5 separate regions of the Homo sapiens genome follow, and regions 1, 3, 4 and 5 are each reported to be linked to region 2. The links are microRNA targets in miRTarBase. Many come from high-throughput screens and were not tested one by one. Region 2 holds a microRNA gene; each other region holds the end of a gene's coding sequence. Distances are between the middles of the regions.

The links. Region 2 holds the annotated microRNA hsa-miR-942-5p (UCUUCUCUGUUUUGGCCAUGUG, at 2,879-2,900, opposite strand). A microRNA usually pairs through its seed, bases 2 to 8, with sites in the 3' UTR of a target mRNA and lowers its output. Matches are read on the target gene's strand: a 7mer-m8 pairs with bases 2 to 8, a 7mer-A1 pairs with bases 2 to 7 and ends in A, and an 8mer does both.
Region 1: miRTarBase lists PTDSS1 as a target of hsa-miR-942-5p. Seed matches in the 3' UTR shown: 7mer-A1 at 2,048-2,054 and 7mer-A1 at 2,748-2,754.
Region 3: miRTarBase lists METTL15 as a target of hsa-miR-942-5p. Seed matches in the 3' UTR shown: 8mer at 2,731-2,738 and 8mer at 3,030-3,037.
Region 4: the mRNA of RPAP2 is a reported target of hsa-miR-942-5p. Seed matches in the 3' UTR shown: 8mer at 1,435-1,442.
Region 5: miRTarBase lists EXOC7 as a target of hsa-miR-942-5p. Seed matches in the 3' UTR shown: 7mer-m8 at 986-992 and 7mer-m8 at 1,124-1,130.

Annotation. Positions count from the first base shown.
Region 1 is chr8:96,332,619-96,337,722 of GRCh38, forward strand. It overlaps PTDSS1 (phosphatidylserine synthase 1), which reads left to right. Exons shown (of 13, transcript NM_014754.3): 13 at 839-4,377. The coding sequence ends at 948. Among named protein-coding and RNA genes, the nearest start is that of PTDSS1, 73 kb to the left of the region's middle.
Region 2 is chr1:117,092,451-117,097,554 of GRCh38, reverse strand. It overlaps MIR942 (microRNA 942), which reads right to left and starts at 2,912; the gene lies at 2,827-2,912. TTF2 (transcription termination factor 2) reads right to left here. Exons shown (of 23, transcript NM_003594.4): 18 at 4,654-4,824; 19 at 2,188-2,246; 20 at 1,256-1,406; 21 at 122-204.
Region 3 is chr11:28,329,932-28,335,032 of GRCh38, forward strand. METTL15 (methyltransferase 15, mitochondrial 12S rRNA N4-cytidine) reads left to right here. Exons shown (of 7, transcript NM_001113528.2): 7 at 465-3,576. The coding sequence ends at 910. Among named protein-coding and RNA genes, the nearest start is that of MIR8068, 150 kb to the right of the region's middle.
Region 4 is chr1:92,386,024-92,391,127 of GRCh38, reverse strand. RPAP2 (RNA polymerase II associated protein 2) reads right to left here. Exons shown (of 13, transcript NM_024813.3): 13 at 1-4,117. The coding sequence ends at 4,117. Among named protein-coding and RNA genes, the nearest start is that of RPAP2, 90 kb to the right of the region's middle.
Region 5 is chr17:76,079,255-76,084,358 of GRCh38, reverse strand. EXOC7 (exocyst complex component 7) reads left to right here. Exons shown (of 19, transcript NM_001013839.4): 17 at 70-111; 18 at 220-353; 19 at 609-3,343. The coding sequence ends at 711. ZACN (zinc activated ion channel) reads right to left here. Exons shown (of 9, transcript NM_180990.4): 1 at 4,998-5,104; 2 at 4,796-4,920; 3 at 4,613-4,657; 4 at 4,365-4,471; 5 at 3,935-4,104; 6 at 2,957-3,081; 7 at 2,604-2,814; 8 at 2,310-2,477; 9 at 1,553-1,896. The coding sequence starts at 5,094. The coding sequence ends at 1,706. Among named protein-coding and RNA genes, the nearest start is that of ZACN, 2.6 kb to the right of the region's middle. RefSeq lists a silencer at 3,065-3,265 and enhancers at 3,350-4,345, 4,465-4,514, 4,346-5,104.

The sequences.
Region 1 (5,104 bases), not on the chromosome of region 2:
CACTTACAGGTTCTCCACTGAAGAGAATTAAGCAGTAGTAGAGATGTATTTACTTGATGGAATAATAAAAAAAGAAAAATAACAAAAACAGAAGTCTTCTGAGTGGGGAAAGAATCTCTTAGTCTAAGTCAAATGCTCCTTACAGTGGAGACTGTAACTCTGGTAACTTTTTTTTTGTTGGCAGCCTCAGGTGGAGATTTCCTATGGGGCTGGATCAGAGCCCTGGGGCAGAGAACCCTTTGGCTTGGCCGCTAGGCCAGGCAGGGGCTGAACAAAGGCTCAGCTGGAGGGCAGAGGCTGCCCAGTGCCCTCCATCGTGGGCAGCAGGGGCCTGAATTGTAAAGATGTTCTCCAGATCAAATGTAGAGGGTGTGAAATAGCTCTGATTTTATAGTGTCAAGAGTCTTTCCTGATGTCGGGTTTAGAAGGTGGTGTGGAGCAGGTGAAGGGATGGAAACCCTTGGTTGCAGGGCAGGATGGGCACCGCGTGGTGTGTGTTTTAATTGCCCCTCGTTTGGGCTTCCGTTTCACTTGTGCTCTCACTTCTGGTCCTCACCATCATGACCATGTCCATCATACACAGGACAGATGTACACACGCTTCAGGAACCACCCAGACTTTGGGGCGCTATTGCGTTGAACCCCGCGCCACCGCGTGTGCTCCTTCAGTACTAGTTCTGTGTTTGAGAGCCTCGCCTTCATTTATGAATGAGGCCACTAGGGGGAGTGCACGTATCAGGGAAGAACCTGTTCCCCGGCAAGCCTAGGGCGGTCTGGAAAGGGACAGTCACCAATCTCCAGAGCCCAGGGTGACGGTGTGCTCTGATTCCTTTGGCCAGGTTCTGAAGACAGCCCACCCAAGCATGCAGGCAACAACGAAAGCCATTCTTCCAGGAGAAGGAATCGGCATTCCAAGTCAAAAGTCACCAATGGCGTTGGAAAGAAATGAAAAACCCTGGTTAATCAAAGATGTTCCAGAGTGCCTAGAACTGAGAGGGAAATGGAACTCATTTGGAACTCCCCGTGAGGAGGTCGAGGCGCACAGGGCAAGCAGGAAGAGGCGAGGGCACTTGGGGGTCATTATTTGAGATCGTAAGTCTTGTTTCCCACAGACCTGGCCGCGTCAGGCAGATCATCGCCTGGGGGGCCTTTGCCAACGTGGGGTCTCTTCTAACTTCAGCACTTGACATGCGGTCACCGGTGGCAGCGCGGTGTGTTGAAGGGAAACGGTAGCTATTCATTCACAGTTGCCAAGAGCAGCTCCGCGCCTGCTGGATCGTGGATGCAGCGTAAACATCTTCCTTCAGACGAGGCATTAACCCCATGGTTAATGGACTGGTCACCAGTTTTTATTTTATTTTTATGAATCTACCTTTCCATTGATTGATTTAAGTTCAGGCCACTTTTCTGTCTTTTATTTGGTTACTGTTGTTATTTGTTTTTAAGTTAGGATGCTTTTTAACAGCCTTTAGAAGCCGCTGCTGAAATTGATACTGGGGGAAGGGTTCCCCTTCCTTCTAGAGCAGAAAAGGGAGAGAGGTGTTGTATTCCTGTTTGGTAACCTCAGTCTCCTGTAAGACCTCCTACCACATGGCGAGTATACACCAATCAGGAGAGGGTAGCTGCCTGCATAGGAGCCTCGCTTCCGATTATTCCCTTCCCAATATTATTCATCCAGACTTAGCCACAGTGCACAAAAGCAAACCTGCTAGAGAGGCAGTGAACACCACAGCTTCTCCCCAGCTAGGTGCCTTTTACATCGGGTTTGTTCTCCTTCCATGGTGTGTTGCTGACATTGTCACTGAGTCCCATGTGAGGTGCTGGTGAGTATTACCTTTCATCTGTGCCATGCTCTAGAACCTTGACCTTGATAGTTCACCACCTCTGATGGATCCCTGTTTTAAATAAAAACGATTCACTTTAAAGCCTATCAAAGGTCTGTCTGTAAAATGCTCATTTTCTTGCATCTTACTGGTATCTTCTATTGATTGTAAGCAGTCTGTGTTTTTCAAGTGACTTTAGGATAATATATATGTGTTTTACATAGTGAGAAGAAAAAAGAAAAGATGTGTATTTTAAAGGGCTTACAGACATATATGTCCTACTTCTTAGACTACCCAAGTGACCAACAGGAATGAACAACATAGTCATTGTTTTTTCCTGTGGTAATGGTTTCCAAGTTGGACTTTTTTTTCCTCTAACAAGAGGCCAGTACCCAGTTGATTAGCTTACAGATATCAACTCACTGAAAGTAATCTTTTGTTCCCTCATTTCACACAGCACAAAGGTTCGTTCTGATGTTTCTTCTTCTTTAAGGAAATCTTTAGCCATAGAAGTGTCACTTTTTTTTTTTCTGCAAAAGAATTCCAAGATGAACGGGTTGAATGAATCATGCCAGCCAGGGTCACATCCTGTCCTCAGGGGGCCCAGTGCTCAATAGTAGATTCTGCGGGAGTGGAGAAGCGTCAGTGGCAGCTCCGCTCACTTGGTGAGTGAGGGATTTGGCTGTGATGAGCCTCAGCTCCGAGCTCTCAAATGTCCTCCAGCCAGCATCTGCCTGCTTCCCACAAAAGGATAGAAGAGAGGCAAAGTGCGTGTTTCATAAAACCTGCCTGCACTTTTATAACCCATCAAAGAGGCCATTTTTAAACACAGGTACAATTTAAACATGATCTTTCTTTGCAAATAAATATGTTTTGTTTCATCCTGTGTTCTGCTTTTCTAAGCATGACATACTTGTGCCCATTGGAGAAGACACCTGTCTCTTCTTTCTCACACCGGTGGTGCCTCACTGAGTGTTTCCGGGTTCATTTTCCGGGAGCACTGGGCCTGACACTTTCACACTCTTCTGACTTTCGCCTTGTTGCAACTGATGGAGCATGTGTGCTTCCTCTGAGGCCAGCCTACAGGAGGCAGCTGTTTCGCAGGTGGTGAATTCGACTTTACTGTGGCATTGTGAAGAGCAGGGTGCACAGGAGATGATTTTTTCTCCATGGCTTTGTAAGAAACAGCCAGGAAAGTTCTCAGATACTTTCCATGCCCTTTCTTTGAGTTGAAACTTTCTATTTCCCTTCAGTCAGAGCTCTTTACTATAGTAGTTACAAAACCAGTGCTTTCCATGGCTGGCCAGAACCACAGCTGCTATTCCTTTTAGAAGCCATACTGCTGGGTTTGGCCTACTTTTTTCACCGTTTCTATGGAAATAAACCTCACATTGATGGAAATAGAATGCGTGTTTCAGAATCATCATTCAATATCTGAAATGATTTGATTGTAAATTATCTCATGGTCCCTGTTTGCAAACCACCCTCTTAAGAGAGAACATTGTTTTGGACCTAAAGCTTGAAGAACGGTTTATGTATTTTTCTCCTTAAGTAGCATTGCATTGAGTGTTAGGTTCTTTTCCCTTTTTTTCATTCTTGGTCTTCCCAAAGCTTCTTCCCACATTTCGTTTGTGTCTGTTTCCACCATTCATAGAAACCTTGGAACCACTCTCACAGCAATGCTAGGATGTTTCATGGACCTGTTAAGCATTTTGATGATACAAGACATCCTATCAATGCCAGTCTTATTTTCGCTAGGACTCTGCTTCCACAGTAAGCTCCTAAGGTGCTCACCCAACCCAGGAGAAAACAAAATTCATTACCAAATACAACAGGTTCAGCCTTCTTGGTCTTCCCTCAGAAGCCACCGTGTAGCACCCTGGAATGATGCCTCTTTATGCCAAGGCCCACCCTTTGGAATTGGGAGGGTTTTGGGTAGAATCCTGCACTTACAGAGGCCCTTGGGGTCATTGAGAAGTGGAGGAGGTTGGACACAGAAGGGGAGGCTAAACACAAGGTGGGGAAGAAAAAATGTAACCATTGGCAGCCAGACTGAAGCTAGCCCTTTAAAATACGGGGTTGGGGGGTTAACATCCGCTCTTTGGAATGTGCTCAGTGACTGCTGCAGAGTTCCTGGGCCACCCTAATGTTTACCAGGTGGGCGTTGTTTATATGGTTCTTATTGTTATGACAACTAGAAATCCCACAGTAGACTAGACAGTGCTCCCTACCATTTCCCATTTATAGGATTGAAATCAAGATGTAAGGAGAGCTGGCCGGGCGCAGGGCTCACGCCTGTAATCCCAGCACTTTGGGAGGCTGAGGTGGGTGGATCGCCTGAGGTCAGGAGTTTGAGACCAGCCTGACCAATATGGTGAAACCCTGTCTCTGCTGAAAATACTTAAATTAGCCGGGCATGGTGGCAGGCACCTGTAGTCCCAGCTACTCGGGAGACAGAGACAGAAGAAATGCTTGAACCCAGGAGGTGGAGGTTCCAGTGAGCCGAGATCACGCCACCGCACTCTCTAACCTGGGCGACAGAGCGAGACTATCTCAAAAAAAAAAAAAAAAAAAAAAAAAAACTGTAAGGCGAGCTAAGACGTCTGTCTATCAGTGTTCCATTACATAATACACCTCTTTCCTTCACATGTGTGTGCACATTCTCAGGATTATATTAGAGATTTGATTCTTTGCAAGGGTCAGTATCAGTAATGGCTGAGACTGGTGGGCTGCAGTCATGTTGCTATGCCGTAAGAGGTTTTTACAACATTTCCCCTTATCACACTTTATTCTAACCTGATGATGGGCCTATCTCAGGTGAAGATTGCAATAGTTTCCTTAATTGAACTTTGGTATTTGATGCATTAAATAAATATGGCTTTTTAATTTTGCTATCTTCTGTGAATTTAAAGGAATTATTTCATTGATGTCTACCAAAGAAGATAAAAAAACAGTTGGATGTGAAATTTTTTTAGGTTGTGGGAATGCTACGTTGTAAAAATCTTCCTTTTCTTCCATGTTCACTAAAAAATGCCTTTAGTCCATTTCAGAAAGTTCATCTGTGACTTGGTCTACTCTGATATTCCCTTTCTTGCAGCTTGTTAGGTGGAATTTTGAAGTTGCTTGTCCTGCAAAGAGATATTTGTTGTCACAGTCTAACAGTGTTCAAGGGTTTGCAACATGTCCAAGTACCTCCAAGGCCTCACAGGGCTAAGCTGAATTTATCCCTCATGATACTCTGATACTCATAATACTCTGGTTGAAGCCTGGTCTCTACCTCCA
Region 2 (5,104 bases):
GCAAGGCATCTCTGCAATACGAACACAGCAATCAACATAAGAAGTCAGTTCTTGCTGCCCCTGTAGCCCACTGGCCTCCTTGATGTGCTGTGACAACCCAGGACAAATCCGGAATCATTACCAGTGCATGTCCAAAAGAAAGAGGTGATTTCCTCCAGTCAGGTTTAGACCAACACCTCCGGCCAAGAGAGAGATTAGCATTACCTTCAAAAGGAAACACAACATTAACTTTAAACAGACTTGGTCTCGTAACACATCTCGGTCTCAGGTTTAAGTCCACAATCAATACAGATAAGCACTGTGTTCCTATCAAATTTCCTTCTGCTGTTATAAATTGTTTTTTTTTTTAACATTATAATGCTATCTCCCATGTCTCACTTTTGAGAAAATTCTCACATCACATTTTGTGTGTGTGTGAGTCAACCTCAAAAAATTAACTGAGTGCTTGCCAAAATATATAAATACTGTAATTTAGAACCCTGGGGATGGTCAGCTCAATAAACTTTCAATTAACCAGATTATGTTTATTTCATCAGTCCCTACCCCTCCATTGCTACAATAATTCTCCTGCCTATCATTCTACTAATGCTTTCCAAATCTTTATTATCTATAATTAGATGCCTGTGTTCTTTCATTTCCTTCCATATTTCCTCATACCAAAACCCCACCTATCCTTCAAAGCTTGCCTCCTCTGCAAAGATTCCCCTCAACCTAACCAGCTCTGCTGTTAATCTCCTTTTAGTCCTCATATTTGATTCTTTTTAGAATATTTGTGCTCTTTAAAAGTATCCCAATACATGTCTAATAAATTCTAAACACTCGGAGGAATCAAGGCTGTAAATATTTTTAAGTTGCCATATCAGAATTCTCTTTATATGGCTGGGCACGGTGGCTTACGCCTGTAACCCCAGCACTTTGGGAGGCCAAGGCAGGTGGATCACCTGAGGTCAGGAGTTCAAGACCAGCCTGGCCAACATGGTGAAACCTCATCTCTACTGAAAATACAAAAATTAGCCAAGCTTGGTGGCAGGAGCCTGTAATCCCAGCTACTTGAAAGGCTGAGGCAGGAGAATCGCTTGAACCCGGGAGGCGGAGGTTGCGGTGAGCCAAGATAGCACTATTGCAGTCCAGCCTGGGCAACAAGAGCAAAACTCCGTCTCAAAAAGACAAAAACAAAAACCAACCAAACAAAAAGAATTCTCTTTGTATAACTCAGAACAGTTAATTATGCGGCTCTGATGTGACCAGCTTGTACCTGAGGGCCTCTGGAGTGGTTAAATGCCTCTACCAAGTCCATTCTCTGCTTGGGATTGACAGAGCCATCGATGGTGGCATAAGTCAGTCCATGCTTCTTCAGGTGCAATGCTACAACTTTCAGCATGTTGGTCCACTGAGAGACAATGACACTGGAAAGAAGAATAAAATAAAAAAATACCCTAACATAGATTAAACAGACTCATCTGCAGGGCTTTAATGCCCTCATCATTCTTAAGGTTAGCTATCAAATGTTGACAAGGAAAGGCCTTCTGCTACCTAAGGGAGAAGGCACACATTTAGGTCATATCTGAAGATTATAATGCTTCCAGTTATTTCTAGGTCCTTTCTACAATTTATTTAGTGCTAAATGAAGTCAGAAAAAAATGGTAGCTAGAGTAAAGTGATGACTCCAGCCTTCTTTCATTTGGGGTCCTAGTGCTCATCCAGAAATCTGTGGTCCTGCACAAAAGGGACACACTGACCACCCTTCTTGTGCCAGCCAGAACAACAGGCTCCTCCCTGCCCCCACGCTGTCTTAATTCGAGTTCTAAATTTTTATATTGAATTATTTTATAAATAATGCAGGTGTATAGCACATATGTCAGGTATAACAAATGAGTCCTTGTATCCAAGTACTCAGCTTAAGAACGTTATCAGCACTGCTGGAGCCTCCTCACTCGCTTGCTTTTCTTTATATGCTTCTCTACTTTTAAACACTTTTTCAGATGCTTCGCTTACCCTGATCCTCTAGGGATCTCCTTTTCAATTTGTACCACAAATATTTTAATTAGAAATCACAGGGAATGTGTGCTATAACCTCAGTGCTTTCTGCTGAGCATGACTCACAGTCCTTGATTTATAACTCTTGGCAATATCAAATTTTCTCACATAATTATGACCAATACTTGGATAATGAGAAAACGCAGTTACCTCTTTTGGGATGCTGAATTTCTTTGAATTGCCTCCAATTCTGCCAACAGAGATGAAATCTGGGAAAAGGTTACATCAACATTGTATGTTTAAGCAATTCACTTTTCTCCATCTCCCCTCACCTGCCATGCGAAGCAGCCTCCTACATGGCGTCTGTGCTCTGGCCTCACCTGTCTTTATTCCACCCTCCTCTCTGCAGCCAGAAAGCTCTTTCTAAAATGTGAGTTTGTCACTTCACCCCTCTGGCTAAAGCCCTTCCATAGCTTCCCACTGAGGATAAAGGCCAAGCTCCTCAAGGCAGCTTGCCGGATTCTTGCTGCTCCAGCCTCTGCTTCTCTGGGTTCGTTTCTCACCATGCCCTCCTCAAACGACACAGCAAGCACACCAAAATTCTTCCCATAAATCACACACTGGCCATCTTGTCCATTCTGCTCCCTCTGCCTAGAACACCCTTTTGTGTCAGCTTAATGTCACTTCTTCTTGGAGGTCCTCCCAACCCCCAAAGTACAGGTTAGGTGCCCACTGCCCAAGTACTATCATAGCACCTTTTGTTTCTATTATCACGGTCCTTGTCATACTGTATATTAATTGCTTATTATCTCTTGCTTCCAGGACTTGAGACACTCCAAGGAGGCAAATATTAGGAAAGTAACTTCTCTGTTTCGGCCATGTGTGAGGGGCTGTGAGTACACACATGGCCAAAACAGAGAAGATACTCTCCTAATGTTTGCTGAAGAAGAAAGTGAAAGAGCTTTACCCACTTTATGGCCTGCTCCAAATGTTGTTGAAAAGGACCTGTCCAGACGGAGGAACCATTGTTAAAGCTTCCGAACAGGCTCCCTGGGTATTCCCCAAGAACCCTTAGGGTGCACTTGAGTCCACAGGGGAGCTGTCAGTAAGAACACGTGGGGCATGACTTTGGAGTGCAGCTGGGCTCATTCTTCCCAGCTGCTCATGTGAAAAACCTTTCAAGAGCCTCTAAGGGCCCCAGAGTTCACCCCCAGAATGCTGGAGAAGGAAGAAAACTGGGCTGTAAGTCAATCAGGAGACAAATATACAGAAGTTCTTCCTCTGTCCTCATATGGCTGGACCACTTTGGGACTCAGATTCCTCATCAGTGAAAAGAAGGACTTAGGCCAGATAAATTCTGAGGTGCCCTGAGCTCCCACATTCTAGGATGTCATTACAGTGGTCACCACATGGGGCTGCTTTCCAATCTTAACAAACATTCTGGTGCCTAGGCAGGAAGTGAGTCACAGAACTGTACCATTCAAATTAGCAGACAGAAAAGCAGCTACATCTGTTATTTAGTTAACAATAGAACAGAGACACTGATGTGCCTGGTGTCTTGGCAACTTGAGATTGTGGAAGGCGCTGTGACTCCCACATGAAAAAGCTAGCCATGGTGTTTTGAGAAAACTGCAGCAGGAGGGCTGGATTTATGGCCCACGAGCCGGGGTCAAATTCCAGTAAGAAGCCTCCTTCCCTACTTGAAACAACCGTATGTGGTTTGAACTATTAATGGACATATGTTAAGAAAACTTGTGAATAAATATTACCTGCATTTAATTAAACAAGGAACACAAATGATTAGGAATTTAAATTTTAGCCCAATAGCTCACTCTGAAGGCACTAGCATGTGTGTTCTGGCCACATGGGATGCTCTTCTTATGTTTCTCTCAGCTATCAGTGGTAAAGACCTAGGTAAATGTTTTCAAATTTTAATTAAAAGGCAGCATTCCTTTTAAAAAATAATGCCATTCCCCTGGAAGTGACCTTTCTAGTTATTAATACACTTTTTCAAAAAAAGCCTTTGAAGAGAGGTTGAGCCCAAGAACGGCAGCTTGAGATGCTAAGAGAGAAACAAGCCTCACTTTCAAGACAGGCAGGATGATGAAGCACATTCCGAGCCAGCAGACAGGCAGGATTCAGGTTACGGCATATCTAAGCCTTCCTCCAGCAGAATGTTTCTGCCTTAAAAAGCTCTGACGAAAACAGAGCAGAATGACTAATGAAGACAGAAGGCTATGTAGGAAACACTACTCACATGTGGAAGCCTTTCAAAGTCAGAGCAATTGGCGCTCGCATGTATGACACAGTCTCTAGAGTCAAGCCTTTGTTTTCCTTTTAAGCTTTCTCTAAACAAATTGCTCACTTGCATAGGCCCCGTCCCTAGCACAAACCTGGCAAGCTCCCCAGTGACCCATGACAGAAAACCCACTTCAGTGCAATGCTGGGGTTGTCCCAAATTACTCTCTCAAAGTCCCCTATGTAGTAAGGCTTTAGTGTTATCTGTGAAATAAATGAAGCTTTAAGACTGGAGGGAGAATCTGATCAGCTAGAATTTAACGGCTCTAGCTCTGCTGGCAAATGGCTGTTCCCACTTGGACAAATGAAGTGCTGTCACACAGGAAAATGTGTGAGGAATCGAAGTCTCTCGACTACTACAGAGGAGACAAAAAGTACCTTGGTGCTCTCTCGCATGCCTTCAAAAAGCTCCATCTTGAAGAAGGTGCCGTTAAGGGAAACAGTGGAAGATGGCTCTGAGTCACGGAGTTCTGACAAGGTCAAAGCACTGAGCTGTTCTTCCAGGGAAAGGACAAGACCTTCACCCTTCAGTTCCATTGGATCCAGGGCCTGAACAGACAAAAAAGGACAGGAGCAGCTGGGAGTCAAGGGAGCAAACCTTGTTACTTGTTGATGATGTTTTGATTGTTTACCACTTCACAGAGCAAAATATCTTGTAATTTGTCATCAGTAACTCCTCAAGACACCTTGATTAAAGTGTGATCTTGCAAGTTTTTTCACCACATTAAAGATAAACCAAATGATGGAACTTTTTAAAGACTTGCCAGGCAGATGACATAATCATTCTATTTTTTCCAAGCTAGAATATAATTGAGATGTTGATAATCAG
Region 3 (5,101 bases), not on the chromosome of region 2:
TTAATAATATTTTTGTTCTTCTTTATGTAATGAATTTTCTTTTCTGTTGGCATTTTTTTTGTTGTTATCTTTGGCTGTAGTAGTTTTATGATATGCCTATGTGCAGCCATTTTGTTTATTATATTTGTGCTTCATTGAGCATCTTTGAGTTAACGTTTTTCACCAAATTTGAGAAGGATTTTGTTATTATTTCTTTAAATATATGTCCACCATTTCTCTTTCTGTGCTCCTTGTTAAACTCCAATTATCCTTATGAGTTATGAAAGGTTTTTTTGCCACATAGTTTTAAACCTTGGAAGAATGTTTGGGAATAAGAGGGGGAAGTATGAATGAAGTGCCACCACAATTTTCTAAGAAAACTTAGTTCACTAAATATGCACACAACTACACAATTCATTAGATTTACAGTGAAAAATATTAATGTTACCGGTCTTCTTTTCCTATCTTTACAACATTTGTTTTAGGAGCATTTCCTCCCTCTGCTATTTATACACGGAAAGACTTACTACAGCGATCTACCCATATTGCCACCAAGACTTTCCAGGCTCTTCGCATATTTGTGAACAATGAGCTCAATGAACTCTACACGGGACTGAAGACAGCTCAGAAGTTTCTGAGACCTGGTGGTCGTCTTGTTGCCCTCTCCTTCCATTCACTAGAGGATCGCATCGTCAAAAGATTTTTGCTTGGAATAAGCATGACAGAAAGATTTAACCTAAGTGTTAGACAACAAGTGATGAAAACATCTCAATTGGGTTCAGATCACGAAAACACGGAAGAAGTCTCTATGAGAAGAGCTCCTTTAATGTGGGAATTGATACACAAGAAGGTACTTAGTCCACAAGATCAGGATGTACAAGATAACCCCAGAGGGCGCTCAGCCAAGCTTAGAGCAGCTATCAAATTATAAGTTATCATCATCTTATTCTTCAAATTTTTTTCTCACAATTTCTCTAATCTTTACTCATGTTATGTCCCTGAATGTCTTGGTATAGGTTTAAGTGTGGGACAGTCTGAAAATTGATAGCATTTAGCATTTCTTTTTTCTCAAAAAGAAACTGTAGGAAATACATGACAGAGAAAGTTACACTCAGGGAGCAGCAGCACCTCCAGACTGGAAAAATATGTTAATCTTTGCATCATATTGGACTCTTGAAGGCAATCCTTCCTCTGGCCAGGAAATTTTTTAAAAAATAATACTGTGTTGTGTTTATCTAAATACGTAAACTCAAGCTACCAAAGAGAAAGATGTTGTAATCATATCTGCATGTCCTAAATTTTGAATTTAGATATTCCAATTTGCATCAGTCTTTCTGTGGCTCAAATAATGATGATTATGGAATGAATTTTAATGTCCCTACTTGTGAATAATTAGCTTTCTCAAATGTAGGCTTTTTACAAATTTTAAATTTTAAAATATTAGTTTAAATGTGTGTTATACTGATAAAATTTCATCTTTCAAATTATAGTCTATTATTTTAAAGGGATTTTTCAGTATGATATGGGCCATTTTGTTCATCTATCGCAAAGTAAAAATGTAAAATCCTTACAGAGAATTGTTTCACAAAACTTATATTTCATGTCAATTGTATTTATTTTAATAATAGCTCACAATGCCTTTAGTAAGTAATAAAGTCTCTTATTAGAATCTTGTATTTTTTAATTGAGCTAATCAAAATAATTCAGCCAAGTCTATTTGAAATAGAAAACTGTCTATTTAATATAGTAAAATCAATGCTCCCTTAATGTTGTTACAAAGATATGGTAACTGTAATATGGGTAAAAGTTTATTCAAGAAAAGAGTACTTGGTAGAAGATTCTTTAACAAATTGAGGAGATTGATTCATAATTCACATGTCAATTTTTTATAGTAATATGTACTTCTAATTTATTATTTATACTTAAATTGTGACCTGAAAGATGAGTTGGAGATAATTAGTCAAAGGGCACATGGAGTATGGAAGGGGGCATGTTGATTAACCATACATAGAAATAAATATTCTCTTAGTTATCCTTGAAATCATATTTATACTATTAATTTGCTCAGTGCACTTTTTTCAAATACAGAAAAAAGATTCTCCATTATAGTTACAAATTTTAGGTTGGTGAATCCAAGTGAATGAAATATCAGCATAACTATGTGGGCAAAATAGATAGAATTAAATGCATGAATTTTCCTCAGACTTATTTTATCTGCCTCTGTAATATTTAACTTTAGTACCCAGGCTTGTTCACTACTTCTGCTTTACAGGCTTTATTTAAATCTGAACAATCCTACAGGGAAATCAGAATTAGGAAAAAAATCTGGAGAACAATATGGTTGAAATAGAAACAAGAGAATGCACCTAGGTTAATTCCCTGAATCCTACTTGAACATTGTATAAATTTCTCTTTGCATATAATACATATTTGTGAATGAGACATATTCCCAAAAAATTCTTATCTCTGTATGTGATTGGAAAAGAAAAGATCACATTTGTATATTCAACAATCTTTCACCTATTTCATAAGTCATTTTTTCACCCTGTATAGTATGGGAATTATTTTTTATGTTAAATAGAAACTGAATGTACTGGGTTGAATGGTGTCCTCTCCAAAATTCATGTACTTCCTGGAGCCTCAGTATGTGACCTTATTTGGAAATACTGTGGTTGTGGTTGTAAGTAGCTAAGATGAGGTCATACTGGAGCAGGGCAGGCCCTTAATCCAATATGACTGGTGTTCCTTATAAGAGAAGATAGGGCGGGCATGGTGGCTCACGCCTGTAATCCCAGCACTGTGGGAGGCCAAGCCAGGCAAATCGCTTGAGGCTGAGGAGTTCAAGACCAGCCTGGCCAACATGGCGAAAACCCATCTCTACTAAAAATAAAATTAGCCATGCGTGGTGCTTGTAATGTCAGCTACCCAGGAGTCTGAGGCACAAGAATCACTCGAACCTGGGAGGTGGAGGTTGCGAGATCACACCACTGCACTCCAGTGTGAGCAACAGAACGAGACTCTGTCTCAAAAAAAAAAAAAAAAAGGAAGAAAGAGAAGATAGAGACACAGGGGAGAATGCCACATGAAGCTGGAGGCAGAGATTGGAGTGATACATTGTGGGAACCCTCAGAAGATAGGAAAAAAGCATGGAATAGATTCTCCCTCAGAGTTCCAGTAGTTGCCAACCCTGCTAACATGGTTTTGCACATCTAGCATCCAGAACAGTGAGAATGTATTTCTGCTGTTTTAAGGTACCCAGTTCATGGTAATTTGTTACAGCAATCCTAGGAAGCTAATACTCTGACAGAAAAAAATCTTGGATAATATGCATGAGAAAAATCCTTCAATAAACACAAAATTGGTTTCAAAATGTTTTCATGTAAAAATAAATTAACTTTTCTGTAATTAGATTGTGTTTTATAGTAATTCTTGCCTGCTTCTTAGTCTTTGTTGTAGGATGCATAATAAAATACATGAATGAGTTTTAAATGGTTAGCTTTGGAGAATGGTTTTGGGAAGTTCCTACAGTACACAGAAATAAAAGCTAATGTTACTATGAATGCGCATTACTTTTCTAATAAAATGTTTCTGAATCTCTGTCTTGACTGCCTTCTATGAATCATTTTAACATAGTATCAATGTCATTGTGTAGTACATCAGTTCTTAACAGTTTTTAGTTCATTACTTAAATAAAATTTAATAACTACAATTTTTAGATAATATCCCTATTTTTATTTTATTTTTAAAATTGTATATTAATTACTATGTTCTTTGAAGTTTCTAGGGGTGTTCTTGAAAGACACTATATCTATATGTCTTTTCTATTTCATGTAGTATATGATATATTATTTGTGCTTAAATTCATTGTAGTAAACTATTTGTTGTGCTACAAGCAGTAGTTTATAAGAGAATACAGTATGCCTAATTAGATTTTTTAAATGAACTAATATTTCTTAAAATTCACTTGCAAATATTTGAAAATCATATTTTCTTAAGTCTTTGCAGAGTATTACATACCTAAGGTTTTTAAAATTTTTGTTTCTAATTTTTGTTTTTAAGAAGTAGAGATAATGAATCTGTACTGCAGACTTTTAAAAAATAATTTTACTTTCATTTGAAATCTGTCATTCAAAAAGTATGAGACAGTTCTTAATGGGACTTAATGGCTAAAAAAAGAGAAAAATATATGTATATATGTACTCAAGCGTATATTAGAAGCTAACTGTTTAGGAAGAAATAAAAAAATACCTTTTTCACCACTCTCCCTCTTTTTATATACCATCCCTTCTTCTCTGTTCACATTGGTATGTAAATTTGAGGTGACATTAATTATGTTTCAATTTATCTCTGGAAAAAGAAATATTAGGTAATTTTGGCACATACCATGACAAACTAAGCCTTACATATTAGAATCTTTTTAATAGATTAAAAACTAAATTAAAAATTGCTTCTGGTTAAAATTTTGTAAAATTTATTTTACTGCAATTATTTTTCTATTTAGTTTTCATAATTGCTTCAGTATCCTAATTGATATTTTTGTGTAGCAGCATTCTATAATAGACAGGGATAAGCATTTAAACATAAAGAGAATTTTGTGAGGTGCTTGATAAATATAAATTTGAAACTCTGATCAAAGATATATTTTTCTCATAACCACAATGCCATATGTTTGATGTTGATTGAAGTATGGTTTGTAAAAATCAACCCTATATTCTAAAGAGGCTGGGTTGTATAACAAACACAGCTATTTTTATATTATTTTCTCAAATCTTATCTGTTTATAGCTACTATATCCAACTAATGTTTGGTAACACAGGATGATCTGCAGGAATGCTAAGAGAAAGTTTACATATAAATTATTTTTTTAAAGTCTAGTTGCAGCATAAAATTTTAAAAACATTTAAAATGAAGAATTGTACAACATACAATGGTCATAATTTATAATGCTTGTCACTGACTTTTTGGCCACCTCACTTCCTTCTCATAATCTGCCCAAATTATTAGGCAACAAAGTAAAGAAAATTTAATATTTCAATATGCACAGCAGGAGATTGTGTCTTTGGTAATGTTACTTTAAATACTGAACAAGTTTTCTACTATTAGCTGTTGTCCTATTAAATAT
Region 4 (5,104 bases), 25 Mb from region 2:
ATGTGGTCAATTTTGGAATAAGTGTGATGTGGTGCTGACAAGAATGTATATTCTGTTGATTTGGGGTGGAGAGTTCTGTCGATGTCTATTAGGTCTGCTTGGTCCAGAGCTGAGTTCAAGTCCTGGATATCTTTGTTAATTTTCTGTCTTGTTGATCTGTCTAATATTGACAGTGGGGTGTTAAAGTCACCCATTAATATTGTGTGGGAGTCTAAATCTCTTTGTAGAACTTGCTTTATGAATCTGGGTGCTCCTGTATTGGGTGCATATATATTTAGGATAGTTAGCTGTTCTTGTTGAATTGATCCCTTTACCATTATGTAATGACCTTCTTTGTCTCTTTTGATCTTTGTTGGTTTAAAGTCTGTTTTATCAGAGACTAGGATTGCAACCCCTGCTTTTTTCTGCTTTCCATTTGCTTGGTAAATCTTCCTACATCCTTTTATTCTGAGCCTATGTGTGTCTTTGCACATGAGATGGGTCTCCTGAATATAGCTCACTGATGGGTCTTGACTGTTTATTCAATTTGCCAGTCTGTGTCTTTTAATTGGGGCATTTATCCCATTTACATTTAAGGTTAATATTGTTATGTGGGAATTTGATCCTGTCATTATGATGCTAGCTGGTTATTTCATCCATTAATTGATGCAGTTTCTTCATAGTGTTGATGGTCTTTACCATTTGGCATGTTTTTGCAGTGGCTGGTACTGGTTGTTCCTGTCCATTTTAGTGCTTACTTCAGGAGCTCTTGTAAGGCAGGCCTGGTGGTGACAAAATCTCTCAGCATTTGCTTGTCTGTAAAGGATTTTATTTCTCCTTCACTTAAGAAGCTTAGTTTGGCTGGATATGAGATTCTGGGTTGAAAATTCTTTTCTTTAAGAATGTTGAATATTGGCCCCCATTCTCTTCTGGCTTGTAGGGTTTCTGCCCAGAGGTCCGCTGTTAATCTGATGGGCTTCCCTTTGTGGGTAACCTGACCTTTCTCTCTGGCTGCCCTTAACAGTTTTTCCTTCATTTCAACCTTGGTGAATCTGACAATTATGTGTCTTGGGGTTGCTCTTCTTGAGGAGTATCTTTGTGGTGTTCTCTGTATTTCCTGAATTTGAATGTTGGCCTTCCTTGCTAGGTTGGGGAAGCTCTCCTGGATAATATCCTGAAGAGTGTTTTCAAACTTGGTTCTGTTCTCCCCATCACTTTCAGGTACACCAATCAAACATAGATTTGGTCTTTTCACATAGTCTCATATTTCTTGGAGGCTTTGTTCATTTCTTTTCACTCTTTTTTCTCTAATCTTGTCCTCTCGCTTTATTTCATTAATTTGATCTTCAGTTACTGATATCCTTTCTTCCACTTGATCGAATTGGCTATTGAAGCTTGTGTATGCTTCACGAAGTTCCCGTACTGTGGTTTTCAGCTCCATCAGGTCATTTAAGCTCTTCTCTACACTGGTTATTCTAGTTAGCCATTTGTCTAACCTTTTTTCAAGATTTTTAGCTTCCTTGCGACGCATTAGAACATGCTCCTTTAGCTTGGAGAAGTTTGTTATTACCGACCTTCTGAAGCCTACTTCTGTCAACTTGTCAAACTCATTCTCTGTCCAGTTTTGTTCCCTTGCTGGCAAGGAGTTGTGTTCCTTTGGAGGAGAAGAGGCATTCTGGTTTTTGGAATTTTCAGCCTTTCTGGTCTGGTTTCTCCCCATCTTTGTGGTTTTACCTACCTTTGGTCTCTGATGTTGGTGTCCTATGGATGGGGTTTTGGTGTAGATGTCCTTTTTTTGATGTTGATGCTATTCCTTTCTGTTAGTTTTCCTTCTAATAGACAGGCCCCTTAGCTGCAGGTCTGTTGGAGTTTGCTGGAGGTCCACTCCAGACCCTGTTTGCCTGGGTGTCACCAGTGGAGGCTGCAGAACAGCAAATATTGCTGCCTGATCCTTACTGTGGAAGCTTCGTTCCAGTGGGGCATCTACCTCTCTGAGGTGTCTTTCGGCGCCTACTGGGAGATGTCTCCCAGTCAGGCTACACGGGGGTCAGGGACCCACTTGAGGAGGCAGTCTGTCTATTATCGGAGCTTGAACGCGGTGCTGGGAGAACCACTGCTCTCTTCAGAGCTGTCAGGCAGGGACGTTTAAGTCTGGAGAAGCTGTCTGCTGCCTTTTGTTCAGATATGCCCTGCCCCTGGAGGTGGAATCTACAGAGACAGTAGGCCTTGCTGAGCTGTGGTGGGCTCTGCCCAGTTTGAGCTTCCCTGCTGCTTTGTTTACACTGTGAGCATAGAACCGCCTACTCAAGCCTCAGCAATGGCGGACACCTCTACCCCGCCAAGCTCCCACGTCCCAGGTCGATTTCAGACTGCTGGCGCTAGCAGTGAGCAAGGCTCTGTGGGCGTGGGACCCACTGAACCAGGCATGGGAGGGGATTTCGTGGTCTGCCAGTTGCGAAGACTGTGGGAAAAGAGCAGTATTTGGGCAGGAGTGTACCCCTCCTCCAGGTATAGTCACTCACGGCTTCCCTTGGCTAGGAAAGGGAAATCCCCCGACCCCTTGGCGCTTCCCAGGTGAGGCGATGCCCCACCTTGCTTCGGCTAACCCTCTGTGGGCTACACCCACTGTCCAGCCAGTCCCAGTGAGACGAACCAGGTACTTTAGTTGAAAATGCAGAAATCACCCATCTTCTGTGTCCATCCTGCTGGGAGCTGTAGACTGGAGCTGTTCCTATTCGGCCATCTTCAATTTATTTTTATTTTTATTTTTTGTGGAGACAGGGTCTCACTTTGTTGCCCAGGCTGGTCTTGAACTCCTGGGCTCAAGCAGTCCTCCTGCCTCTGCCTCCAAAGTGCTAGAACTAAAGGCATGAGCCACCATGCCCAGCCCTCTTGAATGTTTTATAGTTTTCGTTATACAAGTCTTATACTTATTTTGTTAAATTTATTCCTAAGTATTTAATTCTCTTTGGTGATATTGTGAACACAATTTTCTTTATTTCATTTTTGGAGTTTTCTGAACAGAAAAATACAATTGATTTTCTGTATATTGATCTAGCCTGTGACCTTGCTGAACTTGATTAATTCTATTACACTATGATTTTTTGTTGTGGTTAGACCCTTACACAATCAAATGAGGTTAAAAAAAATTGTCAGAGTGGCCCCAGACCAACAACAGGATGACAGTAGCCTTTGCCCATACAGAGATAAAATTTAGTTTTTGCAGTCCTTTCCCATAGAGATTGTATGGCAGTAGCCAATTCTATGGCCTACTGCCATACAACCTGAACTGAAGTCCAGAAAGTTTAGGTGACTGGGCCACAGAGCTAATTACTGGTGGAGCCAAGAAGAGAAATTATATCCCTACCTCCTTGCCCACTAAGCTCCCCATTCCAGTGGGCTGCTTTCTGGTCCTTTTCCATGATTGGGCTTTAGTAGCTGTCATTTCCTCCAGTGTCCAAGAGTATTTTCTTGGCCTTCCAGTAAAGCTCCCCAAGTTGTCTGTGTTCCGCCTCAACTGCTAACTTGCCTACCTGATAAACATTTTGAAAAGCAATCTAAATTCTAGAAATTGTCTCTCCTGCAAACAAACTACAGATTCCATTTAAAGCATTTCCTTGAGTCCAGAAAGTTCTGAGATTTTCCTGTTTTGGACTAGACTTCCAAAGGGCTTCATCTTAAATTGTATGTATTTATTGACCTAATTGTTTACTGATCTTTAGAATTTAGAGTTTAGGTTGGGAGGTCAAAATCATAACTTTCTCAATTTTTTTGGCAAACTGATATGATGGCTGGAAATCATCCAGAAAAAGTAGAGATCATTATATTTTCTTGAATATTCATTCAAGTTTCAATTTAATACTTAAACATTCATTTTCGAATAAAAATACTATGTCTTGTACTAGGGATACAAAGACTTGGTTATTCTTGTTGGAGTAATGATTCTCCTCTATCTGGGGAGGTCATCCTCTGCAGTTGGGGACTGAAGGACTGGGAGATGGGAGATTGAAACTTAAAGAGGTAAAGGTATGTCTTGGAATAAAACTAGTTATCAGTCACCACCAGACCATCATGGCGGCTAGAATTCCAGAAACGGTGAATAGAAGTTCATCTTCTATTTTGTCTTCATGGAATATATCTGTGAAGCAAAAAAGGATACTTTGAGTAAAACATGTATTGGGAGGCCAAGGCAGGCAGATCATGAGGTCAGGAGTTTGAGACCAACCTGGCCAGCATGGTGAAACCCCCATCTCTACTAAAAATACAAAAAAACCCAAAAAGTTTGCCAGGCATGGTGGCATGCACCTGTAGTCCCAGCTACTCGGAAGGATGAGGCAGAAGAATTGCTTGAACTCGGGAGGCAGAGATTGCAGTGAGCCAAGATTGCACCATTGCACTCCAGCCTGGGTGACAGAGCAAGACACCATCTCAAAAAAAACCCAAAAAACAAAACAACAAAAAAACATGTAAAGTATTTTACTAGCTGTTGTAGACACTGTGTGTCTTGTCAATATTCATTCAATTTCTTCCCCATCATGTATATTCTACCCAACAACAGTTTGGGTGGAGTAGACTGAGCTTCGTATTCAACTTGAGGGCTAAGTTTTAACTGATCAAGGTCAACTGGAAAAGCCCTTCTCTTTCCTTCATCCCTAGCCAGAATGATTTCATTAGCTCTTCCCCTTATCCTTTGCCAGAATGATTTCGTTAGCTCACAGCATTCCCATGACCCCATGAATTGGTTCAGGGCTGTCCTCAGTCAGGATGAAGTTCAAGACTCTCACCAAGGCAGTATGGTATGCTATATATAAAACTGGAGCCTACTGAACATTTTTGCCCCTCTGCTAGACACCTTCTAAGATATCCCCCAATGGCTGTTGTCTCCTGGTATTCATGCCCTTGTATAATCCTCTCACCTTGAGTATGGGCTGGACCTAGTGACTAGTTTCTAACTAACAGAATATAGCAAAAGTGATGGGATGTCACTTCTGAGATTAGTTATTAATACAAAAAGACTGTGGCTTCCATCATGGGTATCCTCTCTCACTGGCTCACTCCGATGGAAGCCACATGCCATGTTGTGAGGTGCACTCTAGAAAGGCCTATGGGCAGGGGATTAGGGGAG
Region 5 (5,104 bases), not on the chromosome of region 2:
GGGGAAGAGTGGGGGAAGGCTGCTCTGCTCTGAAGTGAGCTTTCTCTGCTATCTCTCCTGGCTTCCCAGCTCCGGGACAAGGAGCGGCAGATTATCAAGGAGCGTTTTAAGGTGAGTCGGGGTCCTCTCCCCTCCACTGCTTGCTGCTGCTGTTGAGGCAACACAGACCCAAAATGTTTGTCTCTGGGTGCCTTCCTTTTTCACCTTTTTGGTGGCCAGGGCTTCAATGATGGCCTCGAAGAACTGTGCAAAATCCAGAAGGCCTGGGCTATTCCAGACACAGAGCAGAGGGACAGGATTCGCCAGGCCCAGAAGACCATTGTCAAGGAGACCTACGGGGCCTTTCTACAGAAGTGAGGCCTCCATTCCCCTCCCAGCCTGTGCTGCCCACAGCCCCAGTGGGCCTCTTCAAGCTCCTCTTCCTCAAGGGAAAAAGGAGAAGGGTGGTGGATTTAGGCAGCAGATCCAGCGACCTGGGCTTTGGGGCGGGGCCAGACAGGGAATCGCTCAGGGCCACCCCTTCCAAGACTATCAGGAGTGCCTTAGGCTGAGGGTGGAGCTGGGGAGGGGTCGGCCCTCCCTGTCCCCTGACCACAGTGCCTCCTCAGGTTTGGCAGCGTGCCCTTCACCAAGAACCCGGAGAAGTACATCAAGTACGGGGTGGAGCAGGTGGGCGACATGATCGATCGCCTTTTCGACACCTCTGCCTGAGCCTGCTGCTAGCCCTGCCTGGTTCCACCAGACTGGCGTGTCATTGGACAGATAAACCAGTGTTAGCTTGCCTCTGGGCTGGGTGAGCTTGAAGTCCTCTGGGACAGAGACCTGTCTCCACGCCTCCGGGAGCTGTGTCCCTGAGCCCCCTAGTCCTGGCTCCTGCTTTTTCCCCACAGCCCGTGTTCCCAGCCGAACCAGCACTCTCCCGGAAGCCTGGGGTCCCTCCACACCTTGGCTTTTATGACCCTGATGGCTTCTGAAACAGGAAAAGAGAGAAGGAAGACAGAGGCCTGTGCCCACTGCTGCTCCATGTGTACCAAGAGCAGCAGGGCAGAAGGGCCCTCCCTCCAGCCTAGGTCAGAGGTGGGGACAGAGAACTCCCCTACAGCCCAGAGATGTGGCAGGGCTCAGAGAAGCAGCCAGAGCTCCTGGAGGAAAGGCAGTCGGGACTGACCCCCTCTCTTAAAACACATTCCCGCCCGCCCACAGGCCTGAGGTCTGGGACCTTTCCCTCCCAGGAGTCCCCTAGGTGGCTGGGGGAGGCAGGCTCACTGGCCATTTTCCCTAGAGTCCAGCACACTGCAGGAGGCGTTCGGAGGAGGAGTTCCGCCCCACCCTCTACAGCCTTCCTCAGGCCCCTGTCTCTGGCCCCCAGCCTCAGTGCCTCTTGGCCCAGGGCCAGGCAGTCGTGGTTGCAGAAGGAGCAATTAGGCTGCCTGCCTGTGGGCTGGGAGACAGGGACAATGGGGAAAAGTTAAGGAGCAAAATGGGGGTTGGAAGCAAAAAATAGGGCCCCACCTATTTAGGACGAGATTGAAGACTGACCCTTGAGGCACACTTGCACTGGAGATGGGTTTATTTCACGCTCTGTGCTTGTGTGCTAGCGGAGGGAGAGCTCAGGGTGGCTTAATCCAGAGGCCCTGTCATGGCCCGCCCCCAGCCATGGGAAAGCAAACTTCATCCTAAGGTGTGCAGCCCAGGCCCTGCCCCTTTACAGTCTAGGCCGCCTGCCATGGGGTGCAGCCTCTCCAGGGGCTGCGTCAGACTTGCACGCTGCCCACATCCAGATTCCTGCAAAGACGAATTGGGTGCACAGCACCCCAACCACATACACGAGGAAGAAGATGCGGTCAGCAGTCTCAGGCCAGCTTCTCTGTGACCCCTTTACTCCTCTGGAGGGCTCTGTGGGGAGAGATACAGGGAAAGGAGCTGTTCTTCAAGGTCCCCTCAACATGAGCGGAAGAGCGAACCCCAGGGGTCATCAGCCTGTATCGCTTCCTTTCTTAGATTCTCAGCTGATGAAAATTTGGGTCTGGCCCATTTCAGGCCATCTTCAGTTGAAGAAACACCCTCTTAGGCTGTGCAAGGCATGGGTTATCAGGGGATTGAGGTCACCTGGGACTTCAGGGAGGCTCAGCTTGCTCCCTGCCCCAGACCTGTTTCTTCTAAGGGAGGAGGACATGGTGGAGACCAGGGACAGGAGAGCCAGCAGGGTGGATGCAAGGGGCCTCTACCCACACCTGGACCTCCGTGCCCTCACCCCAGCCCTAGGTGTGCACCTAGGCCTCATTCCTTACCCCCCAGCCCCTGCCCACCTTCAGCAGGATGAGGCCCTGGGTTGCCGTGCTCTCGCTGTTCCCCTCTCGGGGCTGGGCTGGGGCCGCTCTTGGCCCCAAGGTTGCCCCGGGCCAGCAGCCCAGCCAGCAGCACAGTCTCTATGGTGCTGAGGAAGAGCAGCAGCAGCAGGATGGTGAAGTAGTAAACTGGGGGAGGCAGGGCACAGGGAGATGCTCAGGGGCCAGTCCCTGTGTCTCTGGTGCCCAGCGAGCTGAGCACCAGTGGGTGACCGGGGAGAAACAGGGCAGACTGGGTAAGGGAGCAGGGCTTACTGAGCAGTGGGTTGCAGGAGGAGGAGCTGGGCAGGGCCTGCACCAGGGAGGAGTGGAGGACGAGGTAACTCAGCAGCAATGTCACCTTGTAGCCTATGCGCTCAATGGCCCGGAGGGGCAGCAACCCCCCGCACACGTCAGCCAACAGCAGTGCCTCTGCAGGCACCAAGAGAGCGATGATGGACTTGAGCGCCGTGTTCTTCAGCCTCAGCTGGAAGGGGAAAAGTCAGGGCCTTCCCGGCGGGGGGGAAGGAGGTGGGCATCGGGGGCATGGGGCCTGGCCTCTGGCCGTGCATCCTCACTCCCACCCGCCTCCAGCAGCCCTCTGTCGGCCTCCTCCCGACTTGACTCACCGTCACCTGGAAGCAGGGCACCAGCTGCTGGGGTGGGACTTGGGTCTTCAGATCATAAACTACGTATTCCCTCTTGACACTCACAATCTCGTTCACCACGTGGGCCTGGAACTCTAACTCCATCGCTGAGGGGTGGGAATGAGAACTATGAACCAGGAAGGAGAGATCCCAGCTGCCAAGTCTGGGGGTAGCAGACTGGAGCCCAGGGGTGATGGAGACTTTTGATGGCTTTTGGCAGGGACAGACTTGGACACAAAACCGATCCATAGAAGGGCTTCCCAAACCTTGTTTTGCAACATCCCAAATTGTCTCCAGTTGAAGGAAGGCCTTTATCAGATTCATAGATGAGCTTTCATTGTAAAAATAAATGTACTTTGCACCACTTCATGATGGAGGGAGAAGTGGTCACAGGCTCGTCAGTCTATCATCTCACAGCTGAAGCAGGATCCCCAGGGCTACCGCTGTGGTCTCTCATGGAGGGAAGGGTAGGACTTCTCTGCCAAGTTAGATGTCACCTGATGGGTTTATACAGGGTGGCTGCACCTTCAGGTGGTTTCCAGGAGTGAGGCCATGGCAACCTGAGCCTCTGGCCTTGCTGCAAGGGGCCGAGCCACTGCAGTCGCCATGGCTGTGGAGGGCAGTTGCTCTGGGGAGGACAGAAGACTGATGTGCTCGGACCTCTGGGATTGCAGAGCTGCTGCGAATGTTTGAGTCTGTCACCCTAGAGAGGGGCCCTGAGGCTACCGCTGAGCACAGAGATGGGCTGCCACTCGAGTGGGGGGCGCAGTGGGAGAGCAGGTGCTGCCCGCCTAAGCCTGGGGTAGACTGCTCTGAACACAGACCTGGGAGTTCGCCTTCTGTCTGCCTTTGCCCCTTCCCCTTGCCCCGCACCCTGCCCCTGCACCACAGACCTGGGAGTTCCCCTCCCCCACCTTCCTCCTCCCCTCCTCAACCCTGCAGCCCCTGCCCTGTCAGCACCCGTGTTGCTGAGAGCGTAGAAGCTGAGGCTGCAGTTGCTGTGGTCCCGGGGGAAGTGGAGGAGCTCAAAGTTGCAGTTGGTCTCCGTGGCGAGGGCCAGGTTGAGCTTCACGTGGCCGTCCTGGTCTACTCGAGCCTGGGGGCTCTGGTCCCTCCAGTCCACCCAGAGCCTGTGGGGAAAGGCACCACAGCCAGAGCCCCAGCCCCTTCTTGGACGGGGCCGGGGGGAGACCCTGGCATCCCAACCCCAACCCCAGCTGCTTTCAGAGTTCTGGCAGTGGGAGGGGAATTCGAGGCAGTGAAGGTGCACTGCTAGTCCGGCGGGGACCGCCAGGAGGGTCATATTCACTCAGACAGCCTCTAGGTTGTAGATGGGGGAAAAGGAGGGCTATGCATGGCAGATTCCTGGGGCAGGAACTGTCTCACTTACGCCTCCAGGATGGTGAGCCTTGGTGTCCAGAGAGACTCCCAGGGCAGCGTGATGGCGTGCCGCGGGTGTGCACTAGTGTTCCAGGCCAGGCGAGTGTCCAGCCAGGACTGGGGACACAAGGGCACCACTGAGGCTCCTGCTCTCCACATATCCATGCCCCTAAGCTCAGCATGTTGATGAAGGCTGGTAGTTCTGAGCTGGACTCAGCTGGGCTTTCCCATCCCACCTCCCCAGGCATAGGAGCTCACCAGCCTAAGCAGCAGCATGGAGGACATTGTGTATCGCAGGATGTCCTGGGGGAAGGGCAATGCATCACCTCAGGGTGAGCGCTGTGTTGAAAGAACGCAGCAGGAGACCCCAGCACTATCCAGGGCTGAGTCCTGTTCCCTGCCCAGCTCAGCACTTGGGGCCCTTGGCCTAGAGGCACTTACCACATTAAACACGTTGGAGACAAACACCCGCACATCCACGAGCAGGGGCGCACTCCCATTGTTCGGGATCTGGATGCTTTCCTGAACCTTCTTGGACAAGTTGACGTTGAAGAGGGATGGCCAGACTGAGAGAGAAAAGTCAAGGTCACTCAGGTGCCCTAGGGCCCAAGTCCCAAAGCTTATGACCTTGCCCTCCACCTACTGGCTGCTGTCCCTTGGAAGCCCTGCCCGTGGACCAACAGCAAGGTAATGCTGAACCCCAGGAAGGTGAGATGGAGCAGGGACCATAGGGCCATCATCGGCTGCACG